7 linked regions of the Homo sapiens genome follow. The protein of the gene in region 5 purifies or fractionates together with the protein of the main gene of each other region. This does not show direct contact. Each region holds a gene or a part of one and is shown on either strand. Other genes may lie near its edges.

Region 1 (4,633 bases), on a different chromosome or scaffold from region 5:
TTTTATTTTATTTGAGAATTTTATTTGAGACAGGGTTTCACTCTGTAACCCAGGCTGGAGAGCAGAGGCATGATCATGGCAGGGTCAAGTCAAGTGATTTCTCCTACCTCAACCCCCTGTGTAGCTCAGACTATAGGCGCATGCCATCACATCTGGCTAATTTTTGTACTTTTGGTGAGACAGGGTTTCACCATGTTGCTCAGGCTGGTCTTGAACTCCTGAGTACACGCAATCCATCTGTATTGGACTCCCAAAGTGCTGGGATTACAGGCATGAGCCACCGTGCCCAGCCAAAAAGATTTTAAAATGTGCAAATTATCACAAAGTTTGTAGGAGACAGAAATGACTTAACATAATAACTAATGCCATACCCTACCAAAAATACTACTCAACACTATATATTCTCTTAGATTATATTCTGTCCGTTAATTCAGACTTTGAACTAATTAGCACAGAATTTGCATAGAACTAAAAAGTGTTTTACAATTGGAAGAAAAAAGTTAAGTGCCACCTGAAGGAAAGACTGGCTTCCTACTGTGTATACAGGGACATCATCTTGTAATATTCACTCCTAAGAAAGTTCTACTTATTTGTTAAGCTTAATGCTACTGGTAAGTAGCTGTCACTCAGCACAAGAAAAGCTTTTAATTCAGGCCCTTAAATCCATTTTGTAGTGGTCTCAATTTTTTCCTAAGTGTATTAACTTCTCTATGTTGTATACCTTACAGCTCAGAATTTTCAACAGATGCTATTGGGCATAACAGTGTATAGGTTTCAAGCATGAAACCAAATCTCACAAGAGATTTAAAAGCACTTGAATTTTCTTTCCCAGGTAACCACAACATTTGTTCATTGTATAAATGACTAAGGAAAAAATTGCACCTAACAAGACTCTTATTATACTAAAAGTCAAGCTTATATTTAAAGATGCTGGCTTGTTGTACAGAGGGTATTCTCATTCCCCACAGGGAATAAAATTAGGTCCCCTGGAGAGTAGAATAATTCCCAGAAAGAAAGCACTGGATTATTTCTCTCTAATTTCACCTATTGGCTTTTTAACCAAGTTCACCCTTCCGCATTAAAATATTAAGTCTTTGTAAATGCCTTAAAGATAAAAAGGCCTTTACAGAGTTGAGTGTTTTCTGCAGGTGAGATTTTACATTCTGAATTCCCTCCTCTCAAATTACTTTACAAAGGGGATTAACTGCTCTCTTTATTCAAATACGTTAAGATCAAGCTTGCGAAAAGAGTCCCCTAAGAATTTTCATACTTCTGGGTACGGAAGTCTATAAAGTTAATCTCTGAAACAACATATCAAGCTTACAGGTACAATGTTGAGAGAAGAGTGCCAATTCAGCTCATTTTACCTTCCATTTTCCCTTTTGAACTTTTGACACAATCATGATTATATCTGATTCACTCTAACAGAAAGGGGAGGGGTGAGGGGGAAAAGTACTTTCCCTTCTATGATTAGCTAATAGTTTGATAGTTTATATACTTAAATTTAGAGGACCATGATTAGCTTAAGAAAGTTCCTTTAGTTTTCTTAACTGGTTATGATTTCTCTTTTTGCATGAGGACTGCTTTAGAGTTTAAAGTCACATCAAGAAATTCAAACATCACTTGCCCATTACATATGCAGTGGTTAACTTAGCCTGTTAAACGTCTTCCTCATCATTACAAGGATTTGTAATTCAATGTAACTGATTAAAATAACTAAGTGCAAAATGTGGGTTTTTTTTTTTTGTTGTTGTTGTTGTTTAAGGTACTGAACTATCACTGCTGAAACTCCTGTGATTGGTCACTTTCAATTTATTTAACTTTCATAAAATGATTGAAGGGCGGAGAGGTTTTTTACCTACAGCTTCAGGAGGACTAAACTATTATTTACTGATCATCTATAAAAGGGCACCATGCTAGATAAGGGAGAATCATTATTTATAATGATGAATAAGATGCAGACCTGGCCCTTATGAAACATACACCAATCAAGGTTAGAAAATAAGCATATAAAAAGTTGAATTTCCATGGTTAAAAATACTACAAACTGGCTGGGCATGATGGCTCAAGCCTGTAATCCCTGTACTTTGGAAGGCTGAGGTGGGAGGATCACAGGAGTTTGAGACCAGGCTGGGCAACATGGTGAGACCCCCATCTCTACAAAAAATAAAAAATTAGCTGGGCAGGCTGGGCGTGGTGGCTCATGCCTGTAATCCCAGCACTTTGGGAGGCCAAGGCGGGTGGATCATCTGAGGTCAGGAGTTCGCGACCAGCCTGGACAACATGGTGAAACCCTGTCTCTACTAAAAACACAAAAATTAGCCAGGCATGGTGGCGGGTACCTGTAATCCCAGCTACTCGGGATGCTGAGGCAGAACTGCTTGAACCCGGGAAGCGGAGACTGCAGTGAACCAAGATTGCGCCACTGCACTCCAGCCTGGGCAACAAGAGCGAAACTCTGTTTAAAAAAAAAAAAATTAGCTGGGTATGGTGGCACATGCCTGTAGTGGGAAGATAAGGTGTCAGGATGGCTTCAGCCTTCGAGGCTGAGGCTGCATGAGCTGTGATCACATCACTCACTGTATTTCAGCCTGGGTGACAGAGGGAGACGGTCTCAAAAAAAAGGGGGGCATTTTGGTGAATACATTATCCATTACTCTATTAAATACACATAACTTTTGAATGAACAATTTCAATGGGAATTAATCCTACAAATATTTCCACACATACAAAAATATTTTAGCATTGTAATAGACACAAAAAAAAACCCCAAAAAAGACCAGAAACAATAAATCTTACATTACAAGCTTATATTACACAGCTTTTTACAAAATATAACTCAGCCATAGGTTAATCAGAAAAGCTGTCTAGAATGTATGACATGTAAAAAGTTTCAGGCTGGGTGCGGTGGCTTATGCCTATAATCCCAGCACTTTGGGAGGCTGAGGCGGGTGGATCACTTGAGGTCAGGAGTTCAAGACCAGCCTGGCCAATACAGTGAAACCCCATCTCTACTAAAAATACAAACATTAGCCGGGTGAGGTGGCACGAGCCTGTAATTCCTGCTACTCCGGAGGCTATGGCAGGATAATCGCTTGAACCCGGGAGGCGGAGGTTGCAGTGAGGTGAGATCATGCCACTGCACTCCAGCCTGGGCGACAGAGCGAGACTCCACCTCAAAAAAAAAAAAAAAAAAAAAGTTTCAGAACAGTATATTATATAGCATAATACCATTTGTATAATATGAAAAGCACGGAAGAATTGACAATTGATTTGGCCCGGATTCATTCATTCTTTCCCCTCCTTTTCTTTCCTTTCCTCAGTCTCTCTGCTTCCCCTCCCTCTCCCCCTCCCTCCCTCCCCTTCCTTCCTTTAGAGACAGGGTCTCCCTAAGTTGCTCAGGCTGGTCTTGAACTCCTGGGCTCAAGGGATCCTTCCACCTCAGCCTCCCAAAGTGCTGGAATATGAGGTGTGAGCCACTGCGTACGGCCAGTCAGGACTCTTTTTCGTTTTGTTTGTTTTTGAGACAGAGTTTCGCTCTTGTCGCCCATGCTAGGGTAAAATGGCGCGAGTGCAATGGCCTCAGCCAGGACTCTTTTAACACAGAGCTAGCCATACTATAAGACAGCTGAAAATGGTGAAAATAGTGTGAGCTAAATGCAGAGAAGAAACAAGTACAGTGTATATTTAGTATATAATTCTTGAATATTCTAAAGCATAGGGAATGATGGGAAATAAAACTGAAAAGTTTAAATTGCACTCTAAATATGGGGCTAAGGTGACTACCTGTGAGCATCAGGAGTTAATAAATATGTTTGAATAGAAAAATGATAGCTATGAACAGAAAAAATAGAACAGAGAAGTTACTACAGAAGTAGAAGCCACAGATGAGCTGCATGTAGCATTAAGGTGTAGAATTAAGAACAGATGGCTCTAGTTGATTCCTAGGTTTATCTGCTTTGAAATGTATGGACAAGAGTCAGACTACTGAGGCAAATTACAGCAAAAATCCCTTAAAGGTTTTATCTTGGATGCCACTTTAAATGCTCTAGATTTACCCAGAAAGAATGCTGAATTCTGAAATTAAATGTAAATCAGGCTTAAATATTGTTAACTTACTTTAAGATGACTAAAACTTTTGAAATTTAAACAGCAAGATTTAGTATTCTCTCACTCTAATATTCATATTTTCCCCCTAATTTTAAGAGAAGTTGCTTAGTATCAGGCTGAGTATAAAGTGGAAGCCACAATTTTCTTCCTAGCTACTGTTCATTTTATTTCTTAACAGGTAAAAGTGTTAAATACAACCATCTGTATGAAATAATATTTGTAGGAAATACAAGAAATATGTTATTTGTGGGAAATAACAATAGATCAGCCGATGTGGGCACAGTGATCACAGACAGGTAAGATGGGAGACAAGCAAAAGTAAAGTACAGCATAGGGCAAGAACCAAAAAGTAAGCCACAGCCTTCATCTATTTGTATAGGTATATACTAGTAAATGCTGAAGATTCTGAGTTTGAGTAACCCTGGACTACTTTAGACTTCAATTTTGTTCATGGAGTTCAAAAGTTCTGCAAATCACGTTTCATCATAAATCTGAAGCAAAGACAGAGGCTCAAATAATCTGG
Region 2 (4,633 bases), on a different chromosome or scaffold from region 5:
CTTTAAATATTTTTCATGTCATTGTGGTGATTGAGGATGTTAATGACCACGCCCCTCAATTTGATAAAAAGGAAATACATTTAGAAATTTTCGAATCTGCATCCGCTGGTACACGACTATCGCTTGACCCTGCCACGGATCCTGATATAAACATAAACTCAATTAAAGATTATAAGATAAACTCTAATCCTTATTTTTCATTAATGGTTAGAGTTAATTCCGATGGTGGCAAATACCCAGAGTTATCTCTGGAGAAACTCCTAGACCGGGAAGAACAGAGATCTCATAGCTTGATATTGACTGCCTTGGACGGAGGGGACCCACCAAGAAGTGCCACCGCTCACATAGAAATTTCTGTCAAGGATACCAATGATAACCCCCCGGTTTTCAGCAGAGACGAATATAGAATTAGTCTTAGTGAAAATCTGCCCCCTGGGTCCCCTGTGTTGCAAGTGACAGCCACTGACCAGGATGAGGGGGTCAATGCTGAGATAAACTACTACTTCCGAAGCACTGCCCAGAGCACAAAACATATGTTCTCATTGGATGAGAAAACAGGTATGATTAAGAATAACCAGTCATTTGATTTTGAAGATGTAGAAAGGTACACCATGGAAGTGGAAGCGAAGGACGGAGGTGGTCTCTCTACCCAGTGTAAAGTAATCATAGAAATCCTTGATGAAAACGACAACAGCCCAGAAATAATCATCACTTCTCTCTCTGATCAGATTTTGGAGAATTCACCTCCAGGAATGGTTGTTGCCCTCTTCAAAACACGGGATCTGGATTTCGGAGGAAATGGAGAAGTCAGGTGTAATATAGAAACAGACATTCCATTCAAGATTTATTCTTCTTCCAATAACTACTACAAACTGGTGACAGATGGAGCCCTGGACCGAGAGCAGACACCAGAATACAATGTCACCATCGTAGCCACTGACAGGGGCAAGCCGCCTCTTTCTTCCAGTAGAAGCATCACCTTGTATGTCGCTGACATCAACGACAACGCCCCAGTTTTCGACCAGACGTCCTACGTGGTCCACGTGGCCGAGAACAACCCGCCAGGAGCCTCCATTGCGCAAGTGAGCGCCTCTGACCCGGATTTGGGGCTCAATGGCCACATCTCCTACTCTATAGTGGCGAGTGACCTAGAGCCCCTGGCGGTGTCGTCATACGTGTCAGTGAGCGCGCAGAGCGGGGTGGTGTTCGCGCAGCGCGCCTTTGATCACGAGCAGCTGCGCGCCTTCGCGCTCACGCTGCAGGCCCGCGACCACGGCTCGCCCACGCTCAGCGCCAACGTGAGCCTGCGCGTGTTGGTGGGAGACCGCAATGACAACGCACCGCGGGTGCTGTACCCAGCTCTGGGTCCTGACGGCTCCGCGTTCTTCGATATGGTACCTCGCTCTGCAGAGCCCGGCTACCTAGTGACTAAGGTGGTAGCGGTGGACGCCGACTCGGGACACAACGCCTGGCTGTCCTACCACGTGCTGCAGGCCAGTGAGCCCGGACTCTTCAGCCTGGGGCTGCGCACTGGGGAGGTGCGCACGGCTCGAGCCTTAGGCGACAGGGACGCAGCCCGCCAGCGCCTGCTGGTCGCTGTGCGTGACGGTGGACAGCCGCCACTCTCTGCCACCGCCACGCTTCATCTGGTCTTCGCAGACAACTTGCAAGAGATACTGCCAGACCTCAGCGACCGCCCTGTACTCTCTGACCCCCAGGCTGAACTGCAGTTTTACCTGGTGGTGGCCTTGGCCTTAATCTCAGTGCTCTTCCTCCTCGCCGTGATTCTGGCCATTGCCTTGCGCCTGCGACGCTCTCTCAGCCCTGCTACTTGGGACTGCTTCCATCCTGGTCTCTGTGTCAAGTCTGGACCTGTAGTTCCCCCCAACTACAGTGAGGGGACTTTGCCTTATTCTTATAATCTGTGCATTGCACATACGGGTACAAAAGAGTTTAATTTCCTAAAATGCAGTGTGCCCCTACATTCCAATGAAGACATGGTTTGCAGTGTTTCTCCTGGAGCCTTAATTCCACCTCATGGTGGGGAGGATTTGACTTCACATCCTGAGACTCTGACTTCGGTGAGTTTCTCTTTTTTGTGTGTGATTTATCTAATAGTCTACTAGTTTCTCATATTTTAGGCATACTACTTTATTTTCATATCTAGAATCATATGTTTAAAATCCATAGCTTTTTACAATATTTTCTCAATGTTTTTTCAATTATAGTTTTCACTATGTATTTGGTTCATAAGTTGCTCTATCTTTTTGTAAAATAATGTCACCAGACTGAAGATATTTTGTCTTTGTCTTTTTTTTTTTTTTTTTTTTTTGAGATGGAGTCTCGCACTGTTGCCTAGGCTGGAGTGCAGTGGCGTGATCTCTGCTCACTGCAACCTCCGCCTTCTGGGTTCAAGCGATTCTCCTGCCTCAGCCTCCCAAGTAGCTGGGATTACTGGTGCCCCTCACCACAGCTAAATTTTTTGTATTTTTAGTAGACATGGGGTTTCACTATGTCGACCAGGCTGTTCAGAAACTCCTGTCCTCGTGATCCTCCCACCTTGGCCTCTCAAAGTGCTGGGATTACAGGCGTGAGCCACAATATTTTGTCAAGTTCTGACTATCGAACAGAAGCAGTGGTCTTGGCATCTAAGAAAACAAACAAGTAACCTATCTATTCAAATTTGCGAAGACTTAGTGAATTTACGATATCTTATTTATATATTTTTAAAGCCTAAAAATATTCAGAAGACAGGCCCAGTGGCTCACACCTATAATCACAGCACTTTGATAGGCTGAATCGGAAAGTATCACTTGAGCCCAAGAATTGAGACCAGCCTGGGCAATATAGGGAGACCCCCCATCTCTACTAAAACAACAACAACAAAAAAAAACATTAGCAGAGTGTGGTAGCATTCCCCTGTGGTCCCAGCTACTTGGGAGGCTGAGCTGGGTGGATTGCTTGGTCCTGGGAGGTCAAGGTTGCAGTGAGCCCTGATCTTGCCACTGCACTCCAGCCTGGGCGACAGAGTGCGACCCTGTCTCTAAAATAAATAAATAAATATGCAGGCAGGGCCAAGTGTGCTGTAATCCCAGCACTTTGGGAGGTGGAGGTGGAGAATCTCTTGAGCGCAGGAATTTGAGACCAGCCTGGGCAACACAGGGAGACTCCATCGCTACAGAACATTTAAAAATTAGCAGGGTGTGGTGGCACATGCCTGTGGTCTCAGCTACTCTGGTGGCTGTGGTGGGAGAATCGCTTGAGCCCAGGAAGTCTAGGCTGCAGTGAGCTGTCTAGGTGACAGAGTGAGACCCTGTCTCAAAAAAAAAAGACATTTCTAAGAAATAAATGAAATACTATTGCCTTTGCACTCAGTCTCTGTCTCTGATTCTCTGATAGAAGATTTTTGAAGAAAAAAGATAAAATCTTTGAAGAGTTCTATACTTGGAAGGCATAGTGACATAAACACTTCTGAACATCCTGTTCTCTGTGTGAAAGAAGTGAACTTCTATACCCTTTGCATTTGAGGGAACAATTGCTACTGGGTTGATGGGCACACACAGTTGAAGATATGTGAACCACTGGACTTTGGCCTCTGATACAAACTGCCTAAGAGAAGAGATTATTTATACTGGTATTAATGCTCTGATGAAAACAGGTCATTTGACATAAACACTTACTTGTTAAAAACCTATATCACTACATCTAACTTTGTTTTCTAAAACTTTTAGTACTTCAAATTCTACGTATTTCTTTTCTCATTACAATGCAAACAGTTTAATTTGCAACTGTAATATATGTTCATTTTAGTTTGTGATTACCTGCTTAATCATTTAAATAGGTCCATTTAACTTGTATCCCTGTAAGATAAAGTATGTTTTACACAAAAAGGTTAATTAAGGCTCAGTAAAACTATTCTAGAAGAGTACTTTAAAAACCTCTTACACAATCCTAAGCTAAATAAGTTTAATGAATTAAGTAGTTACAATTATAAAGCTTCAGAGTGAATTATCTCATGAGTTTATTTAATATAATCTTTGTATGAATGTATACTAAATAAAATTGGCCTATTCAAATCACAATTTTAAATTATAAGACTTTTCTGAATTTACCTAGACACTAATATGACCTAAAATAAGTATTATTTACCTTTTATTAAAGTGTGTACATTTCTGTTGGGAAAACGTGTTGCAAATATATATTTAACCAAACATTATCTTGAAATATTTACAATATTTTCACTCCACTTTATCACACCTCCCCTAAGAAACCTACATATAGTAAATTATTTAAAGATAGGAGTGGAGAAACCAAAGAATCTATGTAAAATATAATAATCCAACAGAATAGTTTACTTTCCATTGCATGTATCACTTGGGTGCAGTAACTTCTTAGGACTCTGAGCGCCGCTGTTCACCTACTAGGAGAGAAAACGCAGCCAGAGCTCAATCCGGATTCTCAGGGCTTCAACTACACAAGCCCCACAAACCGGCTGCTGGGCTGCAGGGAAGCTCACTCCAGAATTTAAAGTGCCCAGGCTACAGAGACACCCTGAAGCCACAGAAAGACAAAGGAACCGGTTGAAACACACAACGTGTCCAGTGAGGACTTTGCAGAATTCTGTAACCAGACT
Region 3 (4,633 bases), on a different chromosome or scaffold from region 5:
GCATCTTTCAGGGCTAGATAAAACATGCAGATGTTTACAGGGTTCCTGAGCTGCCAAGTAGGTATCTGGTATGACACAGCATCATCGTTTGTTGCATCCTGAGAATAACCCTGTGAGATAGATTGTGTTGTATTCACATTTTATAGACGGGAACACTGAGGCTAGTGTGTTAAGTTACTTGCCCAGGCTGGGAATTGGTGGCCATTCCGTACTGTCTGGTTGGGGCTCATGCTGTCAGGAATGCTTCTTGGCAGGGCATGGTGGTTCATGCCTGTAATCACAGCACTTTGGGAGGCCAAGGTGGGAGGATTGCTTGAGCCCAGGAGTTCCAGACCAACCTGGGCAACACAGTGAGACCCCATAGCTTAAAAAAAAAATTTTTTTTTTGAGATGGAGTCTTGCTCTATCGCCCAGGCTAGAGTGCAGCAGCACAATCTTGGCTCACTGCAACCTCTGCCTCCCAGGTTCAACTGATTCTCCTGCCCTAGCCTCCTGAGTAGCTGGGACTACAGGCATCCGCCACCGCACCGGCTAATTTTTGTATTTTTAGTAGAGATGGGGTTTCACCATCTTGGCCAGGCTGGTCTCTTGACCTCAGGTGATCCACCCACCTCGGCCTCCCGAAGTGCTGGGATTACGAGTGTGAACCACTGCCCCCGGCCAAACATTTTTTTTAATTGGCTAGGTGTGGTGATGTGTACCTGTAGTCCCAGCTACATGGGAGGCTGAGGCAGAGGATCACTTGAGCCCAGGAAGTTGAGGCTGTAGTGAGCCTTGAACATGCCACACACTGCAGCATGGGTGACAGAGTGAGACTGTGTCTCAAAAGAAAGAAAGAGAGAGAGAGAGAAAGAAAGAAAGGCCAAGAAAAGAAAAATAGTTGGGCATGGTGTTACATGTATGCCAGCACTTTGGGAGGCCAAGGCAGAAGGTTCGCTTGAGGCCAGGAGTTCAAGACCAGCCTGGGTAACATTAGCAAGACCCTGTCTCCAAAAATAAATAATGTTTCGGCCAGGCGCAGTGACTCATCCCTTTAATCCCAGCACTTTGGGAGGTGTAGGCGAGTGGATCACCTGAAGGTCAGGAGATCGAGACCAGCTTGGCCAACATGGTGAAACCCTGTCCCTACTAAAAATACAAAAAATTAGCTGGACGTGGTGGCGGGCGCCTGTAATCCCAGCTACTCAGGAGGCTGAGGCAGGAGAATCACTTGAACCCGGGAGGCAGAAGTTGCGGTGAGCTGAGATTGCACCATTGCACTCTGGCCTGGGCAACAAAATTGAAACTTCTTCTCAAAAAAAAAAAAGAATGCCTCTTGGGCAAGCAGTCTGTGCCAGGCTGGAGAATGGTGAAAAAGGTGAAAGGGAAGGCCAGGTACAGCCGCGGTGGATATTAGTCAGTCTGAAAGGCACTTGGAGAGAAATAAGATTTACAAATGTAGGGTGCTCCAAAAGAGTGGAATGTCAAGTGTGTCTCCTAGTTCTTTGTTAGGCAAAGTCTGATTTCCTCACCGCCGTTACCCCTCCGGAAACATACTGTGGTGTCCGAGAGTTACACCATGTTTACATTGTAATGTCTTGGAGAGGGAAGCTCACTGAACTCAAAAAATATCCATTTGCAAAAGAAAAAAAGGATATGTAAAATACAGTGACTGTGTGTGTGTATGTATATGTTTAAAATATGCAAAAAAGGAGGGAAAACTTATTTTTCAGAAGGAAATAACGTTGCTATGCAACCCATATTTTGAAAGTTGTGAGCCAAGAGTATGTGTGTGTTTGCACCCAAAAGCTAATCAAGGAAGACTTGAGACACAGGTAGTCTTCTGTTTCTTGTCCCCAGATGTTTATCTTGAGGCCCACTGTTCCCTCTCTGCAATGAGGCATAGAGTGAAGGCTCAGTCCGGAAGCCCTGGCCCAATCTGGGCTGTAGTCACAGCTAAAGTGACAGTTTGTCAGAATGTCCCCTTTTCTGGGGGAGCTCACAGGACTTTGATCCAGTTCTTTTTCTTTTGAGATGGAGTTTCACTCTTGTTGCCCAGGCTGGAGTGCAATGGTGCGATCTTGGCTCACCACAAACTCCGCCTCCCAGGTTCAAGCAATTCTCCTGCCTCAGCCTCCCAAGTAGCTGGGATTACAGGCATGCACCACCACGCCCGGCTAATTTTGTATTTTTACCCCGTAGAGACGGGGTTTCTCCATGTTGAGGTTGGTCTTGAACTCCTGACCTCAGGTGATCCGCCCGCCTCGGCCTCCCAAAGTGCTGGGATTATAGGCGTGAGCCACCGCTCCTGGCCCCTTTTCCTTTTTTCTTTTTTTTTAAGACAGGGTCTTGCTGTGTCACCCACCAGGTCTGGAGTACAGAGGCACAGTCATGGCTCCCTGCAGTCTTGAACTCCTAGGCTATAGCAATCCTGCCTCACCCTCCTGGGTAGCTGGGACCACAGACATGTGCTACCATGTCTAGCTTTGGTCCAATCTTTTGCTGGCCACTTACTGAGACAGGATTTGTACATTCTGTGAGGACCCAGGCTCGTTTCTCGATAGCTTTCCCATTCCTATGCCATTGCTGACCCGTGTGCAGTGAACCTCACCAGGCCCAGGAAGCAGGGACACTGGCCTCTGTCAGGAGTTGGGCCTGGAGGTGAAGGGACAGACCTCACAGAAGGCTCTTTGTTGAGGCAGCGCCCACAGTGGCTAGAGCTTCTCTGGGGTCATCTCCTTCCATGGGCTGAAGGAATTATGGCAAGGGTCCAGCTCATCCTGGCTTTAAAAAAACAAAACCCCAGTGGCCTTGTCAGAAGTGGCCTGGATGCTGAGGCTGGTGGCAAAGATTTCTCAGTTCTCACCAGGGCCAGACTGTGGTGTTATCCAAACAGTGCAAGTGTCATCTGAGGACTCCATCACAGTCAGGCCTGATTCAAAAGGGAAGGTGGTCTGTGCTTTCAACAAGTCCCCCCAGGGTTTCTGACCCACAGCTTTGGGGAGGTTAATGCCTGGCCAGTCCTGGCTGGTGGACACAGGAGATGAGTCCAACCCTGGCTCTGTTCCTAGTGGCTGTGCCTTTGTCAGAAAGGCCCTTCCGGCCAGGTGCGGTGGCTCATGCCTGTATTCACAGCACTTTGGGAGGCCAGGGTGGGAGGATTGCTTGAGCCTGGGAGTTCAGGACCAAACTGGGCAACATAGTGAGACCTCATCTCTACAAAAAAAAGAAAGAGCTGTGCATGTGCCTGTAGTCCCAGCTACTTGGGAGGCTGAGGTGTGAGGATCACTTGAGCCCAGGAGTTCAAGGCTGCAGTGAGTTATGATCATGGCTCTGCACTCCAGCCTGGGCAACAGTGAAACCCTGGCTCTTAAAAAAACAAAACAAAACAAAAAAACCTTCCTATCTCAGGTTCTCAGTTGCCCAGGCTAGAATGCTGTGGCGTGATCTCTGCTCACTGCAGCCTCCGCCTCCTGGGCTCAAATGATGCCCTCATCTCAGCCTCACAAGTAGCTGGGACCACAGGCATGAGCCACTATGCCTTGGCTAATTTTTGTATTTTTTGTAGAGTTGAGGTTTTGTCATTTTGCCCAGGCTGGTCTCAAACTCCTGGGCTTAAGCGATCCACCTGCCTCAGCTTCCCTAGAGTACTGGGATTACAGGCCATTTTCTCCATCTTGAAAGGAGAGGTTCATGGATAGGTGGTTTCAAACTGGGTGCCTCAGGAGTAGGGCTGGGGATGGAGTGAGTGGGCTCCGGGGTCCCACCGCCCGCTGTTGCTGATTTTACATCCTGGTGCTCTTTGTGCCCTTAAAGTGGCTGGGGTTGTATCCCAGTTTACCCAGCTCTGACATCCAGGTGCTTTGGCTGAAGGCTTGAGGGCCTCCTGGGGTCTCTGGCCCCATGTGGCTCCGCCTCTCTGGGCCTGTTTCTGTTTTTGGGCTGCCTCAGGACCCATCCTGGCCCTGACTGAGGCAAGAGCATGACCGTTGAGATTGCCCCAGCAGCAGCATTTCCTCACTCAGTGTGAAGACACTGGCCACCCTGGGGTGGCTTGGTTCTCTGCCCGAGTGACCTCTCCTCTGCAGGGCTGGTGGTCGGTGTTTTAAGAAACTGGAAGTGAAGTACAGCACCTAGTTAGGATCTGGCTGAGACTTTGTCGTGGCTTCCTATGGACTCTAACTGATGTCCGGCCCCTGTTGTGGCTCTGACCCCTCAACATTCATTGTCTCTTGTGGCAGGCTTGTTGTCACTGTCGCCTAGTTCCACAAAATCAGGAACTCCCTTCTTGCCACAGACCAGTTTGCCCTGGGTGCTGGGGACACTTCTAGAGGTCAGGGACCTGCACAGAGCTAGGTCCTCAGGCAGGCTCTGCTCCTGCCCTGAATGGAGAGGCAAGGTAGGGGAGAGAGGATGTGCTGGGAGCTGGGGTGAGCCCACCTGCAGATGGGGGTTGCTCAGAAGTCAGTTGCATTTGTGCACTGGGTGGAATCTCCGAGGACTACACAGCTGGAAGGGAAGTGTGGACGCCCAAGAACTTCCTCTACTGAGCTCTCCTAGCACCTTTTTCTTCATTTATTTGTTTGTTTGACAGAGTCTCGCTCTGTCACCCAGGCTGGAGTGCAGTGGGGCGGCGATCTTGGCTCACTGTAAC
Region 4 (4,512 bases), on a different chromosome or scaffold from region 5:
TTACCAAGAAAACTTGATCTGCCATAAAATCTCAAACAAGTGAAGAAAAGGAATGCAGAGATGCAGGGCCTTTTCTCCACATTCAAAAGACCAAAGTTGGCATGTTTTGTTCTAACACCAACCACATTTCTAACACATATTTGGAGTTCTGTGACTAGTCTCTGAGATTATAATACAGATATTTATCACTTATCACACTGAATTTGGGGAGGGGATTCCCCTTTGGTTTTGTCAAATAATCACAGAAGGAGCCATGTATGTTATCTGTCCTGTTTCTAGTGAAGAAGACAAAGCTCTTCACTCCCCTCCTGACCCTCCCCCTCTAAAAAATCAGCCATTTATGGCGGGTATTGACTCTTGCCAATTTTAAACTGTAACTTCAAATGTCAGCCTGTTGACTTACAGAAACAGACTGACAAATGGCTGTCTGCTATGGAGAAAAACTTTGGAAACTCAAAATGTTCATACAGACTGCCAACAGATTAATTAGTAGCCTCTTTGGAAGCATGATCACGGTCTAAGAATAGCCTTAAATCCTGTTCAAGACTAGCTTCTTTCCCCAAATCATTATAGTGCTAGCCAAATAATAGCAAATGTTAGATACAGTGGTATATGGTTTTGGTGTGTGCAAGAGTCAGACTGGATTAGAAAATACGACTGCCATTTCATACCAGTTTTCATGGCTAAGTTCTACTAAAACTATGTGACCTTCATCATCACAATAAACTGCCGAAAGTGCTGGAATGACTAGAACTAAGGTGTCAGTTTGCTAGTTCTTTGCTTATCTATGGTTAAATACAGTTTCTTGTACTCACTTTGAACCATGAAAATGAGGGAACACATTACCTTGAAAGATACTGAGGATATATCCATGCCAATATGAATAAAATTCCCCTCAAAACAAAACATGTAGGCCAATAATGACAATTACTGTATCCACTCACCATGCAACATGCACAAGACCAAACAACTCAATCACTTTACAAATAGTTTATTTCCACCTTCACAAATTCATGCGCCTCTGACCATTATGCAAGGCAACATGAATTAAATACTTATGTCAGAACATATTTGTCTTACATTATTCAAGATAAAGTGGATTTTAAAAGCAAGTGGGTACCAATGATGGGGAGATGAGGAGAATAGGGCAGGCAGCAACAGGGCAACATGCATTTTTCAAGAGTGTTTATTAAAATAGGCAGTAATCAGTACATGTACATCATATGAGCAGTTTTTCAAAATTAGCACTTCCAGGAGAGGGGCTACATCTCAGTTTTTTCTGTCTGTACAGTAAAATGCCAAAAGTACTTCCCTAAAGTACAAAGGCATTTCCCTAGTAGTCTTGGTACCAGTAACAATATGATTACTAAACATCTCCAATGTGGTTTTCATTACAAAGAAACATGTTTCACATAAAAGCTTCATAATATAATCCAGAGACAGAATTTGTGCATGCTTACAATTTGAAGCCAGGCTGAATATATTTGATATATATTTTTTCATTTCTCCCAGTGTTTTTTATTTTTATAAATATGCACCTAGTTTCCTACCAGTTTAAAACACACACGAAACACTGCTCTGAGCACCATGATTGCCTTACAGTAGCCTCTTTGGGACTACAATCCTAGTTCAAGGAGGGGAGTACTAATTTCTATTCTGACTTGCTCCTTTCCCCAAATCATGTTAGTGTTGACCAAATCCCATCAATTTTCAGATGCAAACAAAGGTTTCTGGGCAGAGGGCCAAATAATAATTATGAATAATTTCACAATGATCTGGTTAAGAAAACACCCAGAAAATGAATGATTTCACATGATAAAAAAGCCTGGACTTGAATTTAAACAAGAGATGGACGTAAAAGGGATGAAGCATTGCTTCATTCCCAGGAGGGATGTTCTTTACTGCAGTACCCACAAAAAGACAGCACTATCCCAGGGCTGATCTTCCTATGGGCCTCCACCAATAGCCTTTGAGGTAGATACTGATGGCTTGAAGAGAGGTAGGTAAAGTCCAAATTTGTTTTCAATCCCTGCAAATGTAGCAACTGCCAGTTTGTAGCCCCCAACGTGATCAGGATTCGGGGCAGGCAGGTTGATCCTGGATTTAGGAACTGGCTCTGATCCCATGGGTTTTCTAAAAGAAGAGAAAACAGAGTAAGAAGCTGTATTTTTTGTTTGTTTTAACTTGATAAAAATAACATTCAAAACCTGTTCAAATATTTAATGTAAAGGAGTTGATACATTCTCATCAGTTGTATGTTCCCCTTGGAAATGACCTTGTTAACACAATTTCAACATTTCCCTAAATCTCTTCTATTTTATTATAGAGACTAGACTGAGGTACCTTTCCCTACGACAACAGAGCATTAGCAGCAGCCAAAATTTAGCAGCAGATTTAGCATGATACTTACACTCCTCCAAAATCAATGTAGAACCATCGCTGTAGCAATTCGTAAGTCAGCAAAGTTACACCAAACTGGGGTGAGGATCGAAATACACGAGCTTTAAAAAAATGGAGAAATCACAGATATAATTAGATATTTTAAAAATTTACCTGATACCAAAGAGTTAGTTAAGAACACATTATTTCCATACCACCAGCTCCCTTCCACAGAGCTTTTGGTCCTTCTTCACGCAGTATCTTTCTAAAGCAGTCTATCACTCCGCTGTAAGTGGTTTGGCCAGCCCGGGCAGCCACCTGTAATCTCGTCTTGATAACATCAGCAGGGGTCACTAAAGATGCTGCAGGCATACCTGCAGGAGAGACACAACACCATCTCAGTCTGGTCACATTCTCACTATATAAAAATAACTGTGCTTTGAACTGCTGGCCGTGGAAAGAAAGTTAAAAATCCGATTCAATAAAATGCCTATTTTGCTGTCCTCTATGGGAAATGCAACCATGCCTCTCCTGTGTGCAAGATGTCTGCTCCTACACCCCTCCCCACCAGACTCACACCTTCCCTTGCCCAAATCACTCAGCCTTCATTTCCTTTGTTTCTATTCCTAAATCTTTAAATATTTTTAAGAAATTGTTTATCAATAACACTACTTCAAGTGGTTGAGAATAAGTGGAGAAAGCGGTTTTCTTTTCTTTTTCTTTCCTGTTGAAATCAAAAACTTGCGAAGTTATTAGGTCCGATTTTTCAGAGGTGAAGCTTGTTATGCGTTTCCTCTTCATGGTCTTCTGTGGCTGCTGGCAGTCACAGGAGGTGCTTTCTCTCACACATTCAACCACCCCCTACTCTCCAAACCCCAACCTCTCCAGTTACACCAGAAAAAGACTTTACTGATATCTAAAAAACACTATGTGTGTTGGGGGGTGGGAGGTGGAGGTTTCGGGGAGGGGGTGAAATTGGGAGAAGGAGACTCCTACAGATAACACTTTAGGATTTCTTTTCCCTAAGACTGACATCTCCAGAAAAATATTTGACAGAAAGCTTAAAATTTATACTGGCTGATAATCAATGAAAAAGGAACAACAACAACAACAGAAAACCCTCCCAAAGTTACCAATGGGAAATTTTTCTACAGTCACTGTATCCAAAATAGGGCAGTGCATGTTTAGATTTTTTAAAAGCGAGACTGTACTCAGAAGACACTGTCTCTTATGGTTTTATTACTTTTCCATTATGAACTTATTCCAAACCAAATTGGTCAAATGCAGATGCATAAATCTCCTTTGCTTTTTTTAAGGCTTAATAATTCTGTAAGAATTTCTGTCCAAACCAACATGGTCTGGCTCACAACTACATTTCATCCTTCTAACAGACAGCTTTAAAGTTACAGTGAGTTGGAAGGGGGGTGTAAATCTGCATACTACACGCTTCCATTTATATTACTGAAGGAGTATCTCTTCCATCTTTACCTAGCTCCTCAAACATTAATCTCAAGAGGTTTTATAAAATACATCACAATTCTGCATGCAAAAAGCTCACTTTATATCCAGTGCTTCACTGGATAAGTCATACTGAAATTCCTGTTCATTTGTAGGAATTATTTTAACTTTGGGCCAGGAATTTATCCTCCAACATAATGGAAGGAAACAAGAAAAATGCTTAGAAACCCACTGTGTTCACACCACCGATTTTGTTTTACTTCCTGGTTTAGAAAGAGTTTAGCAAGACAGCCTGCTTTAGACATGCAATAAAAGCCGCCTTGCAATGGTGGGCAGGCATGTCAGACTGTGACTGTGAAAGACATACAAGCAATAAAATGGGCAAAAAGTTCCCTTTGGCTAGGGTAATTTTCATAAACTCTTCTTTGTTATGAAAATAGAGGTACTGGGGGTGAAGGAAGCAGGTATGAAAGACACCTAGTAAGTTGCCTGGCAAAACTGATAGGAGTTGTGGCGAATGCTAGAATATGGCAACTTGAACATAACTCCCATCATCTCCATTGTCAGCTCCAGTTTCTCCTAGGCAGGTATCTGGTAAGGCCTAAAAGGAATTTTGGACATCTTGGTGGACAGGAGATTTCCAGTGTGAGGATTTGCTAAGTTAACCTGGAGAAC
Region 5 (4,190 bases):
AACCCCAGAGCTTAAGGAGTCCGCCTGCCTCTGCCTCCCAAAATGCTGGGATTATAGGCATGAGCCACCGTGCCCAGCCACAAAAATCTTAATCTGTGTATATTTATAGGGAAAGGGGCTAGGCCTTTCATAGGAGACTTAAAATACTCCCCGTCTCTACAAAGGTTGTCAGAACCACTAATGTAGTGCAACCTTTATTCTCTCCCCTTTAAAAAACCATCCCTGGCACCTGCTCTTTGTGTAGGCTGTCAAGTAGGGCTAAGAAGTCTATGGAGAAGACATGGAGGCAGATCCACAGAGGAGCTCATTTCTTTTTTATTTTTATTTTTTGAGTCGGAGTCTCTGTCACCCAGGCTGGAGTGCAGTGGTGCAATCTCGGCTCACTGCAACCTCTACCTCCCGGGTTTAAGCGATTCTCCTGCCTCAGCCTCCCAAGTAGCTGAGATTACAGGCATGCGCAACCATGCCCGGCTAATTTTTTGTATTTTTAGTAGAGAAAGGGTTTCCATGTTGGCCAGACTGGTCTCAAACTCCTGATCACAAATGATCCGCCCGTCTTGCCCTCCCAAAGTGCTGGGGTTATAGGCGTGAACCACCGCACCCGGCTGGGGTATCTATGGTATGGTTCTTGGCACAAATCAGCAAGTTCAACTTGCCAATTGATCAGAATTTTTGTTTTGGGATGAAAGAATCCAATTTCTGGAGCTCAGAAGCCACATAGTCCAGAGGACCTGGGGGTGAGGATGAGTCAGGGTGGTTGCAGCCTTGCCAGGCCTCACGGCCTCTGGTCCAAGCTGACACAGGCTCACTCACACCCTGCTCTTGGCCCCTGGGCATGCCTTCTCAGATGGGACCTCTTCTTGGCTACTGCATTCTCCCTGCTATTTAGCTCTCTAGCCTCTGACATCCCACCACCACTTCATTACCCAAGAGAATGAACTAAGGTCTAGCAAAGGAAAGTAACTTGCCTAGGATCACAGAGGCAGGGTAAGAACCAGACTGAAGACTGTCCATGCTAGCCTGGTGCTTTTCGCACAGCCCTGCAGTGGCCCTGGGCTCACCAGCCAAACATGCTGGGCAATGTGCCTACGAAGTAATAAGCCAGGCTTGGTACAATTGTGAAAGGCTGTCCTCTCTTGCTCAGTGGGCATATGTCACTTGAAGCTGCCTGGCAGTGCTTTATTAGGGCATCCGAAGAAATACTGCCTTAAATGGAACTGCATCCCAAGCCCATTGCCACAACCTTCTCCCTGTTGGGAATGTGAGACTGAACTGAACACCCGGATGCAACTGATCCTGAGGCCTGGCACTGTGCCACCTCCCTATTGGGTTCATGGCAGTCCCTGCAAGCCTGGCTGGGACTCCTCTGTCATGCAAAGCAGCTCTGGCCCCTCCAAGGCTGTCCAATTGTCATCTGTGTGCTACTCCACCCCCAGCATGGGGATGAACCCAGGTGAATAGGTGGGTGACAGTGAGAATCAGCCCAGGGCAGGTGGTGCAGGAAAAGAGCTGGGAAAGCACTTGTCTCCTTTATTGAACATCTGCAGGGGGCACCTCTGCACTGACCAGGCAGCCAGAGAAGCAAGCAGGCAGGTGGTGGGGGGCAGGGGAGCATGGGGCAGGAAGACGCCCACCCTCATTTCCAGTCCTTGAAAAATTGCTTGAAGATGGGACTCTCATGGCCCTGAGGCAGAATCTCCACCTGCAGGGACAGCGGGGGAGAAGTCTGGTTCACAAAGTTGCCACCTCTGCCTCTGCCCAGGAGGACAGGAGGGGGCCAGAGCCAGGGAGGAGGGTGTGGGCGCCTGGCCTGAATCCATGTGCAGTCCAGGCTGGGAAAGCTCCCCTGGATGAGCCATGAGATGAGAACCAAGATTTCAGGGACACAGACAGAGGCAACAGACTGCTTCAAGGGCGTGGGTGCACAGTTTAATAAATGCCACCAACGGTAGCTGAGCCCTGTCAGCTCCCCACGGGATGACTTGTGGACACTGTGCTGCGGCAGGAGGGGTGGCACCAGCCAGGGACAACGGCCCAGAGGAGGAGTACCCAGTTCTCTGGGCACCCAGGAGAGTGCTGCCCAACATCCTCTTTGAAAATAATAAGTATTTTGACATTTTGAAGGATTGAGATGGGCTTTCCCACTGGATGGGTCTAAGAGGGAGGCCTGGTTGTTCCTGACAGTGCCCAAGGCTCTCCTGCCCTTCCTGGCCAATTTGAGGGGTCAGGGGCCACAGGAAGAGCCCTAGGAAGAGGGCTGTGGTTGTGCGCATCTCCTCACCTGAGTGTTCGGGGCGTACTGCATGCGCGAGATGAAGCCCTCGGCCACCTGCAGGGCTGCCTGCCGCTCCTTCTCATTCGCTTTTCGCCCTAGATCATAGGAAGGAGATTTTTAAAAAGAGCAGGGACCCTCTTTAGCTGCCATCCCATTTTTCTTGAGGAAATTTAAGGGAGTCCACAGAAGAGCCAGCAATTTTTACAATAAATGGACCAGGGGTCCCAAGAATGCCGAGGGGCTCTTTGGAGATGTGGAGTCAGTCCCTTAAGAATTTTCCCAAACCGGCAGCACCAAGGTAGATGAAAACCCCTCGTCTGCCCGGGTCTGATCATGCAAAACTCTGCTCTGACCTGGGCCCCTGGAATATTTCAGGGAGGGGAACAGGTGTTCACCCTAGCATCAGACTGTGAGGCCGCAGGTCTCCTTTTCCTCTAGGACCCCTCACCTCTTGAATTCATCAAGCCTTTTCTGAAAAACTAAATAAGACAAAGGGTACAATTTATTATAGAGGTGATTTACTCCCATAATGCCAGCAGGGCTACACTGGCCTAACAGTTATGCTAACTAAGCACTTACAAAAATGAAGACCCCACGTAATCCAGTCATTTCTGCTAGCAGTCCTGAGAACTCAAACTGCTCATTCCAGGCTTTTTTATTTTTATTTTTTCTGAGACGCAGTCTCGTTCTGTCGCCCGGGCTGGAGTGCAGCGGCACCAACACGGCTCACTACAGCCTCAACCTCCCAGGCTCAAGCAATCTGCCCACCTCAGCCTCTCGTGTAGCTGGGACCACAGGTGCACGCCACCACACTCAGCTAATTTTGGGGGGTTTTTTTTTTGTAGAGAAGTGATATTTCGCCATGTTGCCCAGGCTGCCAGACATTTTTCCAAGGAAATGATACCGAAACGATGCCGTGATGTGGTTGGCTCTCTAGGCAGGCTATAAAATGCCATGAACTACAATGTATCTGAAATTAATATGCTGGATTCCTTCCTCTGTCAACTGACCAGCTGCCCCCCTACCCATGAGATCCTTCTCTTCCTGGCCTCCCAAGTTTCCTGTTTTTCCTCTGATTTCTCTTTCCATAGTTGTTGGGTTCCTTGCTCCGGTTTATACATGCTTCTGTGGGCCTCTGTGAACCCCCCTCTGCTTGGCATTGGTTCCATGGGATATGTGCCCTCTGGCAGGAGAGAAAAGGCAGCCCTGCAGCACACGCCTCTCGCTTTCCACTCTTTTGCTGCTCCCAGCTCCTCCCTTTCACTTCTATCCCTGCTGAGTTTCAGAAGCAATACTATGAAATGCCTGGTAGCAGCTATCTGTAGATACCCACCTACTTGTCTGCCTTCCTGACCAGGCTAGGGGCTGGCATTTTCTCCACCTTGGTTGACCCCACAACTGGGTGTTGAGCAAATGCTATTGCTGAAAATTCTCAGACCCCAGGCAGAGACTGAGAACAAGTTTGTTTCATTTTCAGTCAAACCAAGCAGAACAGGCTCTGCCCAACAGTGTTTCTATTTCCAGAAGATAGAATCTTTTGGAAAAACAAGTTCTACAGGTTCACCACTCACTGCATAAAATGATGTTTAATTTGTCTAAAATTCATTTCTGTCAAACCTTGAGACAGAATCCCAGGATCAGGGGTCCCAGAAGCCCCAAAGGTCTAGAGCTGGGCTAGGGCAGTGGTTCTCAAAGTGTGATCCCTGGAACCAGCAGCACAGACATAACCCATAACCTTGTTAGAGATGCATGTTCTGCCCCACTCCAGACCTAGTGAATCAGAATCTATGGGGGTGGAGCCCAGCCATCTAAACAGGCCGTGGGGTGATTCTGAGGCTTGCTGTAGTTTCAGAGCCATTGTCTAGAATTTAGGAGGTGGGAACAGCAAAGAGAAAATGGCGAGGCAGTGGCTCAC
Region 6 (4,537 bases), on a different chromosome or scaffold from region 5:
GTTAATGGTTCCTCATTGTGGTATTTTCAACTACTTTTAGAGTTAAAAACGCCTTTAAATATTGACTTAGGACAACACAAAAGGACATAAACTCAAAAGGCAGTGGCCAGCTGCCTCTGGGAACAATGGAGCTGAGAGATGCTTTGTCCAGACCATGCTTTTGCGCGATTTAGCAAAAGGCGGTCGGGAGTGGATGCCTCCCCGGCGCCACCTTCTGGCCGCTGTTGTGTAGTGCGTGAGCTGCAGAGCGTGGCCGGGCTCAGGCCCAGGGATATCAAAAGAGGCCCATCCACATGAAGTAGCTTTGCTAGAGTGGGGAAGGGAGCGTGGTCACCTTTCCCGTGGCTCCCTGCCTCCTGAAGAGGAGTTACAGGTGAAGGAGGCTCTCTCTGTTACTTAGCTCTTCTGCTGCCAGCAGGAAGTGGAAAAAAGTTATGTTATTTACGTCTTCTTATCTTAAAATGGTTAACTTGCTGCAAATCTTTTACTTACTTATTTTCGCATAGAAGTGGACACACCCACAGGTTGTTTTCAGACAACCTGGGTCAGGCAGAGCATGCTTCTAATTTCAGAATTAATCTCGAATGAATGCTGAGATGAAAGATGAAAACTATTGTTATTATTTTTTGAGACAGCATCTTGTTCTGTCACCCAGGCTGGAGTGCAGTGGCACGATCTTGGCTCACTGAACCTCCACCTCCTGGGTCCAAGCAATTCTCCTGTCTCAGCCTCCTGAGTAGCTGGGGCTACAACACCCAGCTAATTTTGTATTTTTAGTAGAGACAAGGTTTTGCGTGGGTGGCCAGGCTGGTCTCGAACTCCTGACCTCAAGTGATCCACCCCGCCTTGGCCTCCCAAAGTGCTGGGATTACAGGTGTGAGCCACCTCGCCCGGCCAAAAACTGATTTTTATAGACTGACCTGCTAGGCCCAGGCAGTTTCACACTTCCACACTTCCACACTCGTGGTCTGGTGCGAGTCTAAATACCCACTCAAAAGACAGCTCCTCTTACCAACAAAACTACTCAGTGCATTCAAGCCAGAACCCGTGGGACTTGTGTAGACCTGAGAAACTTCTCAAGCGAAGGTTTGACATTGATCCTCTTTGTAAACGAAGGTACATCCCAGCGGGACATTCCTCAGGCTGCTCCGCATCTTTCCATACTAAGCAGCGGACGAGGTATCATTCAATTATTTAATGGCCTGATTCCCAGTCCATAAAGTGGGGAGGTAGACAGTAGGAGGATCTGACTAAATAAATTTCTCTTGTACTCTTATAATCCTCTTTTTTTTTTTTTTTCTGAGACGGAGTCTTGCTCTGTTGCCCAGAGCTGGAGTGCAATGGCATGATCTTGGCTCACTGCAACCTCCACCTCCCGGGTTCAAGCCATTCTCCTGCCTCAGCCTCCCGAGTAGCTGAGATTGCAGGCGCGTGCCACCACACCTAGCTAATTTTTGTATTTTTAGTAGAGACAGGGTTTCACCATGTTGGCCAGGCTAGTCTCGGACTCCTGACCTCATGATCCGCCCTCCTCGACCTCCCAAAGTGCTGGGATTACAGGCTTGAGTCACTGCGCCCAGGCTTTGGGTTTTTTGTTTGTTTGTTTTGTTTTGACGGGGTCTCACTTTGTTGCCCAAGCTGGAGTGCAGTGGCACAAACGGCTCACTGCAGCCTCAACTTTCCAGGCTCAAGCAATCCGCCCACCTTAGTCCCCGCAAGTAGCTGAGACTACAGGCATGCACCACCACACCCGGCTTATGTTTGTATTTTTTGTAGAGACAGGGTTTTGCGATGTTACCCAGGCTGCTCTCAAACTCCTGAGCCCAAGCCATCCACCTGCCTCAGCCTCTCGAAGTGCTGGGATTACAGGCGTGAGCCACCGCGCCCGGCCTTCTTTTACGCTAATCTTACAAGTGGGGCCACTTCTGTGGAATGGCTAAAAAAGAAAATAAAGTCCGCAAAGCAGAGATTTTACTTTGAAAAATCAAACCCAAATGTTGCAGTTTTCTGTGGCATGAGTGTGGGGATCATGCGGCATGGGTGTGGGGATCATGTGGCATGAGTGTGGGGATCAGACATCATGCCTCTGTGCTTGTTTTTCAGGCATTGTCAAGGATTCTGAAGACATTTACAATTTAAAGAACCCCACTTTGTTCATTTTTGCTGAAAATGATGTTGTGATTCCACTCAAGGACGTAAGTTGGCATCTTTTCTCTTCGTATTTATTTATTTGAGATGGAGTCTCGCTCTGTCGCCCAGGCTGGAATGCAGTGGCGCGATCTCGGCTCACTGCAACCTCCACCTCCCAGGTTCAAGCCATTCTTGTGCCTCAGCCTCCCGAGTAGCTGGGACTACAGGCGCCCACCACCGCACCTGGGTAATTTTTGTATTTTTAGTAGAGACGGGGTTTCACCATGTTGACCAGGCTGGTCTTGAACTCCTGACTTCAGGTGATCTGCCTGCCTTGGCCTCCCAAAGTGATGGGATTATGGGTGTGAGCCACCACGCCTGGCCTCATTTATATATTTAATAGCACGGTTTGACATTCTGCGGGGAGTGGGAAGTCTTGAAGGATGCATTTGTTGCTCCAAATATTTCCAACATTAACATTTTAAAGATGGGTTTTATTCAATTCCACTTATATAATTCCAGTGTGGAAGTATAACCTTCCCAAAACATGCTTAAGGAAATGTCTGAGGGAAGTATTCTCAGCATGGCCTGGTTACCTGGTGGAGAAACGGGACCTCTTGCCCCACCTCCATGCTAACCCACAAATTACAATAAAGTCTGTGACCTTAAAGACAAGGATTTATTAAACAAAGTCAGTTGATAAGGAAAAAGCAGAAGAAAAGTATGGTTCAAAAGCAGTCATTTAGCTGGGCGTGGTGGCTCATGCCTGTAATTCCAGAAACTCAGAAGGCTGAGGTGGGAGGATTGATTGAGGCTGAGAGTTTAAGACCAGGCTAGGCAGTCTAGCTAGATCCCTTCTCCACAAAAATATAAAAAAATTAGCTGGGATGGTGGCACACATCTGTAGTCCCAGCTATTTGGGAGCCTGAGGCAGGAAGATTGCCTGAGCACAGGAGTTGGAGGCTGCAGTGAGCCACGATTGTGCCACCGCACTCCAGCCTGGGTGACAGAGTGAGACCCTGACTCTTAAGAAAAAAAAGCAGTCATTTAGAAATTATTGTTATAATATTAGTAACTAATATATTAATGCAAGTGATTTCAAATAATAGATGTATCATTTTTCCATTTCCCTGAAATCTCTCCTTTGCCAGACATAAGGACTGTGTTAGTTATAAAATTAGCAGTAGAGGCCGGGCGCCGTGGCTCACGCCTGTAATCCCAACACATTGGGAGGCAGAGGCAGGCAGATCACTTGAGGTCAGGAGTTTGAGACTAGCCTGGTCAACATGGTGAAACCCTGTCTCTACTAAAAATACAAAAATTAGCTGGGCATGGTGGCGGGTGCCTGTCATCCCGGCTTCTCCGGAGGCTGAGGCAGGAGAATCACTTGAATGTGGGAGGCAGAGGTTGCAGTGAGCTGAGATGGCGCCACTGAACTCCAACCTGGGCAACAGAGTGAGACCCTGTCTAAAAAGAAAAAAATTAGTGGGAAAGAATTCAGTGTAACTGTGGAACTTGTTTCTGATTTAAAGCATTGATGTTAAATTTCTGTTATGAACGCTCACTAAAGATTTGGAGAATGGAAAGTATCACTAAAGGGTTAAAATCATGAAATCTTTTGCACACCAGGTATCTTTGCTGACTCAGAAGTTGAAAGAACACTGCAAAGTTGAATATCAAATTAAAACATTTTCTGGGCAGACTCATGGGTTCGTGCATCGGAAGAGAGAAGATTGCTCACCTGCAGACAAGCCCTACATTGACGAGGCCAGAAGGAATTTAATTGAGTGGCTGAACAAGTACATGTAGCAAGAATCAAGGGCAAGCCTTCCTAGAATAGCTTTCATCCCAAAATTTGCTTGGAAATAGTTAGATCATTTGATTTAATTTTCACTTTTATAAAATAAGTGTAGGAATCCTAAAATTGATTATTTCATTTGAAACACAAATTCAGTAGGACGTAATGCATGAAATAATTTAATTTTTGACATGTACATCGAATCATAATTTAAAAACAAGGTCTGACCAGGTGTAGTGCCTCATGCCTGTAATTCCAGCACTTTGGGAGGCCAAAGTGGGTGGATCACCTGAGGTCAGGAGTTTGAGACCAGCCTGGCCAACATGGTGAGACCCCATCTCTACAAAAAATACAAAAATTAGCCTGGTGTGGTGGTGCACGCCTGTAGTCCCAGCTACTTGGGAGGCTGAGGCACAAGAATCAATAGAACCCAGGAGGTGGAGACTGCAGTGAGCCAAGATTGTGCCACTACTGTACTCTAGCCTGGGCAGCAGAGTGAGACCCTGTCTCAAAAATAAATAAGTAAATAAATAAATAAATAAAATAAAAACCAGGTCAGTACCTGGAGAATTTGAATGATAGAGAATGATAGAGTAATACCCTAATTAT
Region 7 (3,703 bases), on a different chromosome or scaffold from region 5:
GTTCAGATATATGTGTTGTGATTATTGTATCCTGGCCTATGGGGTATCTTAATGGTATCTTTTGATGAACATAAAGTTCTAATTTTTTGAAATCTAATTTATCAATATTTTTGTTATATGGTTAGTGCTCTCATGCTCTCATGGTTCTTTCCAAGGACTTTTGCTTACCCCAACTTGTGAAAATATTCCCCTGTTTTCTTCTTTAAGTCTAATAGTTTTAGCTGTTATGTTGTGACCATGTTTTATCTCTAATTTTTTGTATGGTATGAGATCAGGGTCAAAGATTCATTTTTTTCCTTATGAATATCAAGTTTTTATAGCATCATCTGTTGAAAAGATTTTCCTTTCCCCATTGGATCACTTTGGCACCACTGTAAAATATCAAATTACTTTATATTTAAATTAATTGCACTACAGATAGTACTCAACTTTCTATAGTTCAACATACAAGTTTTTGACTTTATATATTTATTTATTTGAGACAAGGTCTTGCTCTGTTGCCCAGGCTGGAGTACATGGGTGTGATCATGGCTCACTGTAGCCTCAGACTCCTGGGCTCAAGTGATCCTCCCAACTCAGCCTCCCGAGTAGCTATAAGTGCAAACCACCACAGGTAATTTTTTTTTTTTTTTGAGATGGAGTCTCACTCTATTGCTCAGGGTGGAGTGCAGTGGTGTGATCTTGCCTCACTGCAACCTCCGCCTCCTGGGTTCAAGCAATTCTCCTGTGTCAGCCTCCCAAGTAGCTGGAATTACAGGTATCCACCACCATGCCTGGCTAATTTTTGTATTTTTAATAGAGATGGAGTTTCACCAACATGGCGGCCAGGCTGGTCTTGAACTCTTGACCTCTAGTGATACCTGCCTCATCCCAAAGTGGTGGAATTACAGGTGTAAGCCACTGTGCCCAGCCTGTGGCTGGATAATTTAAAAATTTTTTTGTAGAGGTGGGGCCTCACTTTGTTACCCAGGCTGGTCTTGAACTCCTGGGCTCAAGTGATCCTCCCACCTTGGCCTCCCAAAGTGTTGGGATTACAAGCATGAGCTGCAGCGCCTGGCCAAATCCTTTCCTATGATTTGAATTCAGTTTTACAAACATTATCTTTTTTTCTTCAAAAAGAAAATAATCATAATGATAATAACAGCAGCTACTTATAAAGCATTTACAAGGCATTATAACAAATATCTTATACTTGGTAATCTCGCTCAAATCATCTCAATGACCTTCTATGTAAGGGTTATTATCTCATTTTACAAAAAGGAAACTGAGGTTCGAAGATTTACCTAAGGTCATATAAAGTCTGACTCCAGAAGTCCAATTATACCATTTTGTCATCCTTAAAAAAGTGATTTATTGGTCTCTGATACTAAGTTATTCTTCAGTGTATTATATTGCTGTTCTTCATAATTCCATTAACAAATTGGGTGTCATTTCAGGGCCCAGTATTAAATAATGATCTTTCTTCCTCAGTTTGCTGTACACAGGGAAAAGACAGAAAAAAATTCCTATATGACAAGTTTTTGTTTGTGTCCAATTACAGAGTTCCATAAGACTATGATTTGAATATTGTGGTACAACTTAAATTTGGCACATTATTTAATTATCCAAAGTTTATTACATGTTTGAGTGCACATTAAAGAGATTATTTGGCATAATTGACAAGATAAAATTTCTGTACCTTATTTGACTATCAGGTGTATATGTGGTATATTTATGTATGTGTGTGTATAGACACACATATACTCCTAAATTAAATATATTTGTATAAAAAGCTAAAGATTACTATGTTAAGATTAATTCATTAAAAAATCTATTATATTAAATTGCATCTGCATTCAAAGCAGAAATGTAAAAAAACAAATCAGTGTACTAAATACACACGAATTTACAAAGTAATTGAAAATGAAATAAAAATTTCTATTGAAATGTTATATTCTTGTTTAATTGGCATTTAAGTGGCACTATCAAACTATGGAAATAAACATCATTTTTTAGATTGTTGAGATAATAAAGATTCTACAAGCATTACCATACCCTTGTACCCTCTAAATTAAGATTCAGCATTATTATAGTAGGAAAAAATGGCAGATAATTTTCTTCTTTATTAATATGGGAATTCTCAGGAAGCAATTAGGGCAGTGTCTGCACTCCTGGGCTTGTGTTTTCAGCTCTTCCATCAGTGGAAGTCTGGCTTCTCAGGAAAGGTGCAGCCAGTCCGTCTAATTATGATGCTTGCTGCATAGTGGCCAGCACGGATACATTCAGTCAGAGGCTTGTCAGAGACCAGTTGAGACAGAAAACCTAGAACACAGGCAAAAAAAAACACATGAGTATTGTATAACAGCAGCAGAAATGTCATATTGGGTCAGACCAATATATGATCTAAGCACCTGTCTCATTCTTCAGCCTTGACAGTAAGAGAAAGTCTTGTGCGTTACCGTTAGGGAGGTCTTTTTTTTTTTTTTTTTCCCCGAGATGGAGTCTTGCCCTGTCACGCAGGCTGGAGTACAGTGGCATCATCTTGGCCACTGCAACCTCCGCCTCCCAGGTTCAAGCAATTCTCCTGCCTCAGCCTCCTGAATAGCTGGGACTACAGGCATGCACCACCATGCCTAGCTAATTCTTGTAGTTTCAGTAGAGATGGGGTTTCACCATGCTGGCCAGGCTGGTCTTAAACTCCTGACCTCGTGATCTGCCTGCCTTGGCCTGGGATTACAGGTGTTGAGCCACTGTGCCCGGTCGGGAGATCTTTTCCCAAACATCATGAGCTTCCCCTAATATTTATTCTAAAGAGCTCAAGTTGAGACACAACAACTTGCCATCAAGTCAATCTGGTCTTCCTTTTTTTTTTTTTTTTTGAGGTGGAGTTCCACTCTTGTTGCCCAGGCTGGAGTGCAATGGCATGATCCTGGCCCACTGCAATCTCTGCCTCCCAGGTTCAAGCCATTCTTCTGCCTCAGGCTCCCGAGTAGCTGGGATTACAGGTGCCTTCCATCACGCCCAGCTAATTTTTGTATTTTTAGTAGAGATGGGGTTTCACCATGTTGGCCAGGCTGTTCTCAAACTCCTGACCTCAGGTGATCCGCCTGCCTTGGCCTCCCAAAGTGCTGGGATTACAGGCGTGAGCCACCACACCCAGCCAGGGAAGCATATGTTGATAGGGTCTCAAAATCAACATGGTGAAACACCGTCTCTACTAAAAATACAAAAGTAAATTATCTATACTGGTAATGTGTATATATAATTATACATACGAGCAATGAACAATTAGAAGTTACTAAGAATAAGCCAGGCATCGTGGCTCATGCCTATAATCCCAGCACTCTGAGAGGCCAAGATGGGTGAATTGCTTGAGCTCAGGAGTTTGAGACCAGCATGAGCAACATGGCGAAATCCTGTCTCTACAAAAAATACAAAAATTAGCCATGCATGTTGGTGCATGCCTGTAGACCTAGCTACTCAGGAGGCTGAGGTGAGAGGATTGCTTAAGCCTGGAAGGTTGCGGCTGTGGTTAGCTATGATCATATCACTGCACCCCAACCTGGGTAACAGAGTAGGACCCTGTCTCAAAAACAAAAATTGATTAAAAAGTTAAGAATATTTATCCATATTTATTCTAAGGTACTTCACATACTTCAAATATTTGAAGTACCTTAGAATAAATCTGACAGAAGTTGTGTAGGGCCTGCACATTGAAAATGAC

The links.
Region 1: the proteins of CAPG (region 5) and SNX3 fractionate together in Homo sapiens (co-fractionation; one large-scale study listed by BioGRID). This does not show direct contact.
Region 2: the proteins of CAPG (region 5) and PCDHGA9 purify together in Homo sapiens (co-immunoprecipitation; one large-scale study listed by IntAct). This does not show direct contact.
Region 3: the proteins of CAPG (region 5) and TKT fractionate together in Homo sapiens (co-fractionation; one large-scale study listed by BioGRID). This does not show direct contact.
Region 4: the proteins of CAPG (region 5) and SLC25A13 purify together in Homo sapiens (co-immunoprecipitation; one large-scale study listed by IntAct). This does not show direct contact.
Region 6: the proteins of CAPG (region 5) and CMBL fractionate together in Homo sapiens (co-fractionation; one large-scale study listed by BioGRID). This does not show direct contact.
Region 7: the proteins of CAPG (region 5) and ADK fractionate together in Homo sapiens (co-fractionation; one large-scale study listed by BioGRID). This does not show direct contact.

Annotation. Positions count from the first base shown.
Region 1 is NC_000006.12:108,226,082-108,230,714, forward strand, and holds part of SNX3 (sorting nexin-3), read right to left. Parts: intron 1-4,633. UniProt on the Homo sapiens protein: Phosphoinositide-binding protein required for multivesicular body formation. Specifically binds phosphatidylinositol 3-phosphate (PtdIns(P3)).
Region 2 is NC_000005.10:141,408,540-141,413,172, forward strand, and holds part of PCDHGA9 (protocadherin gamma-A9 isoform 1 precursor), read left to right. Parts: coding exon of another isoform or gene 1-2,126; intron 2,127-3,399; coding exon of another isoform or gene 3,400-3,423; exon of another isoform or gene 3,424-4,082; intron 4,083-4,447; exon of another isoform or gene 4,448-4,633. Other genes in the region: PCDHGB6 (protocadherin gamma-B6 isoform 1 precursor), read left to right, coding at 1-2,081. UniProt on the Homo sapiens protein: Potential calcium-dependent cell-adhesion protein. May be involved in the establishment and maintenance of specific neuronal connections in the brain.
Region 3 is NC_000003.12:53,249,518-53,254,150, reverse strand, and holds part of TKT (transketolase), read left to right. Parts: intron 1-4,633. UniProt on the Homo sapiens protein: Catalyzes the transfer of a two-carbon ketol group from a ketose donor to an aldose acceptor, via a covalent intermediate with the cofactor thiamine pyrophosphate.
Region 4 is NC_000007.14:96,119,245-96,123,756, forward strand, and holds the end of SLC25A13 (electrogenic aspartate/glutamate antiporter SLC25A13, mitochondrial), read right to left. Parts: intron 2,754-4,512; coding exon 2,595-2,753; intron 2,502-2,594; coding exon 2,411-2,501; intron 2,134-2,410; coding exon 1,947-2,133; 3' UTR 976-1,946; downstream 1-975. UniProt on the Homo sapiens protein: Mitochondrial electrogenic aspartate/glutamate antiporter that favors efflux of aspartate and entry of glutamate and proton within the mitochondria as part of the malate-aspartate shuttle.
Region 5 is NC_000002.12:85,393,257-85,397,446, forward strand, and holds the end of CAPG (macrophage-capping protein), read right to left. Parts: intron 2,371-4,190; coding exon 2,282-2,370; intron 1,703-2,281; coding exon 1,637-1,702; 3' UTR 1,497-1,636; downstream 1-1,496. UniProt on the Homo sapiens protein: Calcium-sensitive protein which reversibly blocks the barbed ends of actin filaments but does not sever preformed actin filaments. May play an important role in macrophage function.
Region 6 is NC_000005.10:10,279,855-10,284,391, reverse strand, and holds part of CMBL (carboxymethylenebutenolidase homolog), read left to right. Parts: intron 1-2,103; coding exon 2,104-2,195; intron 2,196-3,759; coding exon 3,760-3,939; 3' UTR 3,940-4,537. UniProt on the Homo sapiens protein: Cysteine hydrolase. Can convert the prodrug olmesartan medoxomil into its pharmacologically active metabolite olmerstatan, an angiotensin receptor blocker, in liver and intestine. May also activate beta-lactam antibiotics faropenem medoxomil and lenampicillin.
Region 7 is NC_000010.11:74,706,919-74,710,621, reverse strand, and holds the end of ADK (adenosine kinase), read right to left. Parts: intron 2,302-3,703; coding exon 2,177-2,301; 3' UTR 1,332-2,176; downstream 1-1,331. UniProt on the Homo sapiens protein: Catalyzes the phosphorylation of the purine nucleoside adenosine at the 5' position in an ATP-dependent manner. Serves as a potential regulator of concentrations of extracellular adenosine and intracellular adenine nucleotides.